2 linked regions of the Homo sapiens genome follow. The protein of the gene in region 1 purifies or fractionates together with the protein of each later gene. This does not show direct contact. Each region holds a gene or a part of one and is shown on either strand. Other genes may lie near its edges. The genes, in order: ZSCAN23 and SCAND3.

Region 1 (3,825 bases):
AGTGTTACCACTTTGGAGTTTACTAAGTAGCCAACTTCTTTGTGCTCATTATCCTCGTTTTATCTTTGTATCAACCTAGAAAGATAGGCAGTGTTGGTTTTAGGATTCCTGTTTTATAGATTGAAGAGACCAAGGCTCAAAACATGAAGCCCAAGACTCTGGAGGGAATACCTGCAGGTTGATGTCTCAGTCCAAGACCTTACACACTTTAAACCTAGATCTCCCTCCTCCATACCTCCTATGGCTGGAGGGACTCTACCTTCTATGGCTGGAGGGACTCTGCCTCCTCTCTCCAAGTGCATTTCTTACGGTTCTTATTCTTTTTATATTCTTTACTTTCCCTCCATCCTCCATTTGTTTCCCTTTTCTTCTTGATTCTTGGTGTCATCTGTGACCACTTGGGCCCAAAGTGTTTTTTTACCTTCATACAGCTAAAATTTACCCTGAATTTAGTATCTTGCTATTCAAATGGAAACCCAATATACTCAAGCTGATTTGAGCTGTTTCGGTCAGGATGATTGAAACAGTACCTTCCTTCAGAAAACTGTAGGCGTTTTTGTTCCATTTCTTTTTTCTTCCTATATTATCTGGATTTGTATTTCTAAAGTATCTATCATTAATCAGGTTTTGGTGTTCCTTCATGAGACAGAGTGACTGATTTTAGTGTAAATACTCCAGTCCCTCCTTGTCCTGAGGTTTTCTGCATTTTTATATTTTTTTCTTCGTAAATTATTGTCTAGATCTCGGGGTTTCCAGAAGAAAAGATCAAGGGAGAATTATCAAGAATAGATTATTTTTCTGAATAGTTAAACCTTTGATGGCCATAACCTTGACCCTTCAGACTGCAGAGATGCAGGAAGGACTTCTGGCAGTGAAGGTAAAGGAGGAAGAGGAGGAACATTCCTGTGGGCCAGAATCAGGCCTGTCAAGAAATAACCCTCATACCAGAGAGATCTTTCGTAGACGCTTCAGGCAGTTCTGCTATCAGGAGTCCCCTGGGCCCCGGGAGGCTCTTCAAAGACTCCAGGAGCTCTGCCATCAGTGGCTGAGACCAGAGATGCACACCAAGGAGCAGATCCTAGAGCTGCTGGTGCTGGAGCAGTTCCTGACTATCCTGCCTGAGGAGCTCCAGGCCTGGGTCAGACAGCACCGTCCTGTGAGTGGAGAGGAGGCAGTGACTGTGCTGGAGGATTTGGAGAGAGAGCTGGATGACCCAGGAGAGCAGGTGAGAAGATGGGAGAACAGGGATTTGTACCTATAAGAACAAGTATGGGGTTTCAGTGCAACAAGAAAAGGTAGAGGAGGAGGATTTTTTTTTTATGCCAGACTTGATCTTCTGTAGGCTTTTAGTCTCTCTGCCTCTGTTTTTTCTTTGCCAGCTTCTTGGTCCTTCTTTTCTATCCAGCGGCCCTGAGGAGGCCTCCTTGCCATGTTCTCTCTGATATTGGGTTCCCAACTGTCCTTGATTTCCACCAGGTCCTGAGCCATGCTCATGAACAGGAAGAGTTTGTAAAGGAGAAGGCAACTCCAGGAGCAGCTCAGGAGTCATCAAATGACCAATTCCAAACCTTGGAAGAGCAACTTGGGTATAATTTGCGAGAGGTGTGCCCAGTTCAAGAGATTGGTGAGGATCAGGATTTCCTCAGACAGCCTACCTCATTCCCTGAATATTTATCAATTCAACCCATTTATTTAGTGTCTGCTGTATGCCAGGCACTGTGCCAGGTACCAGGGATACAGTGATAAACAAGGCAGATGTGGTCCCCACTCTCACGAAGTTTACAGTCTAGTGGGAGAGGCAGACAATTAAGTAAGCAGTTATAATACCATGCATCTTTTCCCTGAGGTCTGGGTATAATAGCTTTAGAGTGGAAAAATAAACAGAAAAAGTGGCTACTTGTCCCCTTCCACCCATTCTCCTGGCCACTTTTTTTCTTTTGTCTTTGGAAAGATAATCTGTTATTTTTCATACTTCATGTTATCTTTCATGTTATCGTTATTTTAGATGGCAAGGCTGGGACTTGGAATGTGGAGTTAGCCCCAAAGAGGGAGATTTCTCAGGAAGTGAAATCTCTTATACAAGTTCTTGGAAAACAGAATGGTAATATTACTCAGATTCCTGAGTATGGAGATACCTGTGACCGTGAGGGCAGATTGGAAAAGCAAAGGGTGAGCTCTTCAGTGGAGAGACCCTATATCTGTAGTGAATGTGGAAAAAGCTTCACCCAGAATTCCATCCTTATCGAGCACCAGAGAACACACACAGGTGAGAAGCCTTATGAATGTGATGAGTGTGGGCGGGCCTTCAGCCAGAGGTCAGGCCTATTCCAGCACCAGAGACTCCACACTGGGGAGAAGCGCTACCAGTGCAGTGTTTGTGGCAAAGCCTTCAGCCAGAATGCCGGGCTTTTCCATCACCTCAGAATTCACACTGGGGAGAAGCCTTACCAGTGCAATCAGTGCAATAAGAGTTTTAGTCGACGTTCAGTCCTCATTAAGCATCAGAGAATTCACACTGGAGAGAGACCTTATGAATGTGAAGAATGTGGCAAGAACTTCATTTACCATTGCAACCTAATCCAGCATCGGAAAGTCCACCCAGTGGCTGAATCAAGCTAGCTCCTTGGAACAGGTAGGGGATAATATTTCTTACTTTGTCCCTGCTGTGTCCTCTAGCATAGAAAAGTTCAAGGGAAAGCCAGTAAAAATTCCCTTACTTTTATGCAGAGAGAAGCATAATATCTTAAATACATCTGCCGAGTTCTCTGATCAGTGACATCCACAGCTTTGCAATACTGAATGTTGCCTCTTGTGTTGATTTCATCATGTATGCTGTAGACCTAGTTTCACACACATCTGTGCAAGAAGTTTTCTATTTCAGGAAAACTTCTTCATCCTAGTTTTTAAAAACTTTTTTTAAAAGTTTAAAATAGTTATATGTAGGCTGAGTACAAAATAATCTCAAATGCAGTTCACCGAGTATTTAAAAATTAACTTAAAAATAATTGTAATAAAATTCATAATATAGGTTTCCTGACTTCTTTCCATTCACATAAAATATGATAATTTGTTTTGTAACCTACAAAAAGGGGCAGATGAATCCTCCTATATAAATGTAGATTTATAGTAAGTTAGATTTCTATAGATTTTTTAGTTAGCCTTTAGGAACCAAGGAACTGAAGCAGCCATATGTTATTAGCAGCTCAGTGGCTCCTCATAACAAATATTGCTCATGATTTTAAATTTACGCAGAGGCTAAGAAACTTAGCTAAAAATCTGATATCTCACCTCAGATTTCTTATTGGAAAATACAGGCCTCTTTGTATTTTTCCCGTAACATATAATGAGCATTTTTTTGTTTTTGCCTTTTTCTCCTTTATTCAATATTTTGTATGGAAAATTTGAAACATATTCAAGATTGAAGAGAAGAGTATGATCACTCTTTCATGTTGATTGTTTTTATAACCTCCACATTTTCTCAGCATTTACTATTGATTACCACCAAGATCATAAATAAAAAAATTTATTTCCCTTAACATTGACTTAGTAACTCTTTACAAAGCTTTACACAAGGTCCAGGAGACAAAGAAATGGAAAACCTATGGTGAAAACAATCTGGTTTGGAATACACCCAAATACCCAATACATAGCAAGTAACTTTAGAATAACAGAATCACTCTAAGGGACCTTAGAGATCACTTCTGCTTGCTCTTATTTGACAGATAAGAGAAAAGGAAGTTCTGGGAAGTAACTAAGATCATACAGCCAGTTAAAAGCAGAGCTGGAACTAGAACCCTGTCTCCTACTTCCTAGTGTAACATTCTA
Region 2 (3,825 bases), 140 kb from region 1:
TATCAGCCATAACCCAAAGATGTATAAAACTCTGAGAAAATATAGGCATTTATTTATTTTTATAACTTAACTTTAAAATAATTTTTTATTTTAATCAAATCTAGTTTTTAACTTGTGGTATAACACTGTTAGCTGAAGGAGGAAAGTAAAATTCATATTATTTACTTTTATTCCTAATTTCAGATGGCGAAACAAGCTTCACTGGACTTTTTTGTCAAGAAAAGACATGCCTTTTCTGAACACAGTAGTAGTAATAAAAGAAATGTTAACAATAGAAGTTATCCTGAAGAAGGGAAAACCAAAAGAGTTCATGCTAGTTTCACTCGGAAATATGATCCTTCATATATTGAGTTTGGTTTTGTAGCTGTAATTGATGGTGAAGTACTAAAACCACAGTGTATTATTTGTGGAGATGTACTGGCTAATGAAGCAATGAAACCATCAAAACTTAAGCGACATTTATATTCAAAACATAAAGAAATAAGTTCACAACCAAAAGAATTCTTTGAAAGAAAGAGTAGTGAATTGAAAAGCCAACCAAAGCAGGTGTTCAACGTTTCTCATATAAACATTAGTGCTTTGCGGGCTTCATATAAAGTAGCACTTCCGGTTGCCAAGTCTAAAACACCATACACAATTGCTGAGACACTAGTGAAAGACTGCATCAAAGAAGTTTGCTTGGAAATGTTGGGTGAATCTGCAGCAAAGAAGGTAGCTCAGGTACCACTTTCCAATGACACCATAGCTCGACGTATTCAGGAACTGGCTAATGATATGGAAGATCAACTCATAGAACAAATAAAACTAGCAAAGTATTTTTCATTGCAACTTGATGAATGCAGAGATATTGCTAACATGATAATTCTTTTAGTCTATGTGAGGTTTGAACATGATGATGATATAAAGGAAGAGTTCTTTTTTTCAGCCTCTTTGCCTACAAACACAACTAGCTCAGAACTGTATGAAGCTGTAAAGAATTATATTGTTAACAAATGTGGTTTGGAATTTAAATTTTGTGTAGGAGTATGTTCTGATGGTGCAGCTTCAATGACAGGAAAACATTCTGAAGTGGTAACCCAGATTAAGGAACTTGCGCCAGAATGTAAAACAACACATTGCTTCATTCATCGAGAAAGTCTTGCCATGAAAAAAATATCAGCTGAACTAAATAGTGTACTTAATGATATAGTAAAAATTGTGAATTATATAAAATCTAATTCATTGAATTCAAGATTATTCTCTTTATTATGTGATAATATGGAAGCTGATCATAAGCAACTGTTACTGCATGCTGAGATACGGTGGTTATCACGGGGAAAAGTTCTGTCAAGAATGTTTGAAATACGAAATGAACTCTTAGTGTTTCTGCAAGGCAAGAAACCCATGTGGTCCCAACTTTTTAAAGATGTGAATTGGACAGCCAGACTTGCTTATTTGTCTGATATCTTCAGTATTTTTAATGATCTTAATGCTTCTATGCAAGGGAAGAATGCAACTTATTTTTCAATGGCAGATAAAGTTGAAGGACAAAAACAGAAGTTAGAAGCTTGGAAAAACAGAATTTCTACAGATTGTTATGACATGTTTCATAATTTAACAACAATTATCAATGAAGTAGGTAATGATCTTGATATTGCACATCTGCGAAAAGTTATCAGTGAACATCTTACAAATTTGTTAGAATGTTTTGAATTTTATTTTCCATCAAAAGAAGATCCACGCATAGGAAATTTGTGGATCCAAAATCCATTTCTTTCATCAAAAGATAACTTAAATTTAACTGTAACTCTACAGGATAAGTTGTTGAAGCTGGCTACCGACGAAGGATTGAAAATCAGTTTTGAAAATACAGCATCACTTCCTTCATTTTGGATAAAAGCTAAAAATGACTATCCTGAGCTTGCTGAGATTGCTTTAAAATTGCTGCTTCTTTTCCCCTCAACATACCTCTGTGAGACCGGATTCTCTACTTTAAGTGTTATTAAAACAAAACATAGAAACAGTTTAAATATACATTATCCCCTGAGGGTAGCATTGTCATCAATCCAACCTAGATTAGACAAATTAACAAGCAAGAAGCAAGCTCACTTATCACATTAAAAGCTTTAAATATTGATATGTAAGGTATTGGTTCAAAGTATGCATATAAGCATTGAGTGTGAGGAATTTGCTATTTCACTTTAAACTTTCTGTCTAGTTACAGTTATGGAAGTATGAGAAGTTATGAGTGAAACAGCAATTTTCTATATAAATTGCCTATATGTATATTTTCAATTAAGAATGTGTACAGTTTTTATAATTCTATTTTTCCTCATATTTGTCGTATTTATTAAAATATAATTTTAAATCTGTTGATTCTAATATTAAAACATTTGATCTTATATTTTGTGTCTTCTTCTTGTATTTCATTAGCATGTTAAGATTGTAGGACAACTTCAGGATGGGAGATGGTTTCTTTGAAATAGACAAGGTCAGTGAAAGGAAGTGAATTCAAAGGGGTAGGCTTAGAATTCAAATGCAGGGGACAGGTCAGTAGGGTATGAAGTTTGTTAAACTGATCCAGAGTGGTTAGGTTGGAAGTTGATGTTGTTTGTTTTGTAGGTGCATGTTTAGACAAAGATGGAAGGGAACACTTATTTTGTAATGGTGTTATGGCCTTGGATTCATATTGATAAATTTATTTACTTATTTATTTTTGAGGCAGGGTCTTGCTCTGTTGCCCAGGCTGGAGTGCATTGGTGCAATCTCTGCTCACTGCAACCTGTACCTCCTGGGTTCAAGTGATTCTCTTGCCTCAGTCTTCCGAGTAACTGAGATTACAGGCACCCACCACCATGCCTGGCTAATTTTTGTATTTATAGTAGAGATGGGGTTTCACCATGTTGGCCAGGCTCATCTTGAACTCCTGACATCAGATGACCCTCCCACCTCGGCCTCTCAAAGTGCTGGGATTACAGGCGTGACCTGCTGCGCCCGGCCGATAAATTCTGATTTCATAAGGATGGGCGATTGGGCCATACTGACAAGTTTATGTTAGGTGGTTTCTAGATTTTGCTAGAACTGATTGCCTTTAAGGTGCTCTGGGACAAAGTCAGAAATTATTGGCACCTCAATTAGATTTAACAACCTCTATTTTGTTTGGAGATGATTCAGAAAAATGCCACAAATATCTGCTCTTGTGTCTGTGAACTCATTTAGAATAATCGAAAGCAAATTAGTCCGATAAAACAGGTTCTTTAGCATCAAAACATGACAGAATCCATGAAGAAAATATCTTTTCCTAGACAGGGTAGCAATTTACAGTAAGTGCTTCGTTTCAAATAAATGTGATATTCAAAGTTAAGGAAAGGAAGGCTATTTAGTGATTCAGAATGTTACTAATAATTTAACCTTTTGGTAATGGAAGTTTCAAGGATCCTCCAAACCTTTGAAAGTAGAGGAAAGGTTCATATTTAGTCCTGAAACCTTAATTGGATTATGTTTTATTGTGTGTTTGTTTTAATCTTACAGCTTTTCAAAAACAAAAAACCTTATCATGGTGGATAGATTTAGAAGACAGTGGTTTAATTTCTCCCACTGACAAATTATATGCCCTCTTTCTTATCTGACCATATTCTAGAACTAAGGGATTTTAAAATGTTTTACAGTTTGTTTTATTGATTGAATAAAGTATTGTGTTTCCCATTTTTAATTTCAAAAGGCAATGTGGTGATTTTATATTTATTTCTATAAAAACTTAAAGTAGTCTGGAAGAAATTAAGAGGGAATTAAGAGTACATATTAAAAGAGAACTAAATTCCCTTACTTTCTCTCTAAGAAATATAA

The links.
Region 2: the proteins of ZSCAN23 (region 1) and SCAND3 purify together in Homo sapiens (affinity purification with mass spectrometry; one large-scale study listed by BioGRID and IntAct). This does not show direct contact.

Annotation. Positions count from the first base shown.
Region 1 is NC_000006.12:28,433,259-28,437,083, reverse strand, and holds part of ZSCAN23 (zinc finger and SCAN domain-containing protein 23), read left to right. Parts: intron 1-740; 5' UTR 741-817; coding exon 818-1,225; intron 1,226-1,476; coding exon 1,477-1,624; intron 1,625-2,005; coding exon 2,006-2,619; 3' UTR 2,620-3,825. UniProt on the Homo sapiens protein: May be involved in transcriptional regulation.
Region 2 is NC_000006.12:28,570,186-28,574,010, reverse strand, and holds the end of SCAND3 (SCAN domain-containing protein 3), read left to right. Parts: intron 1-183; coding exon 184-2,100; 3' UTR 2,101-3,476; downstream 3,477-3,825.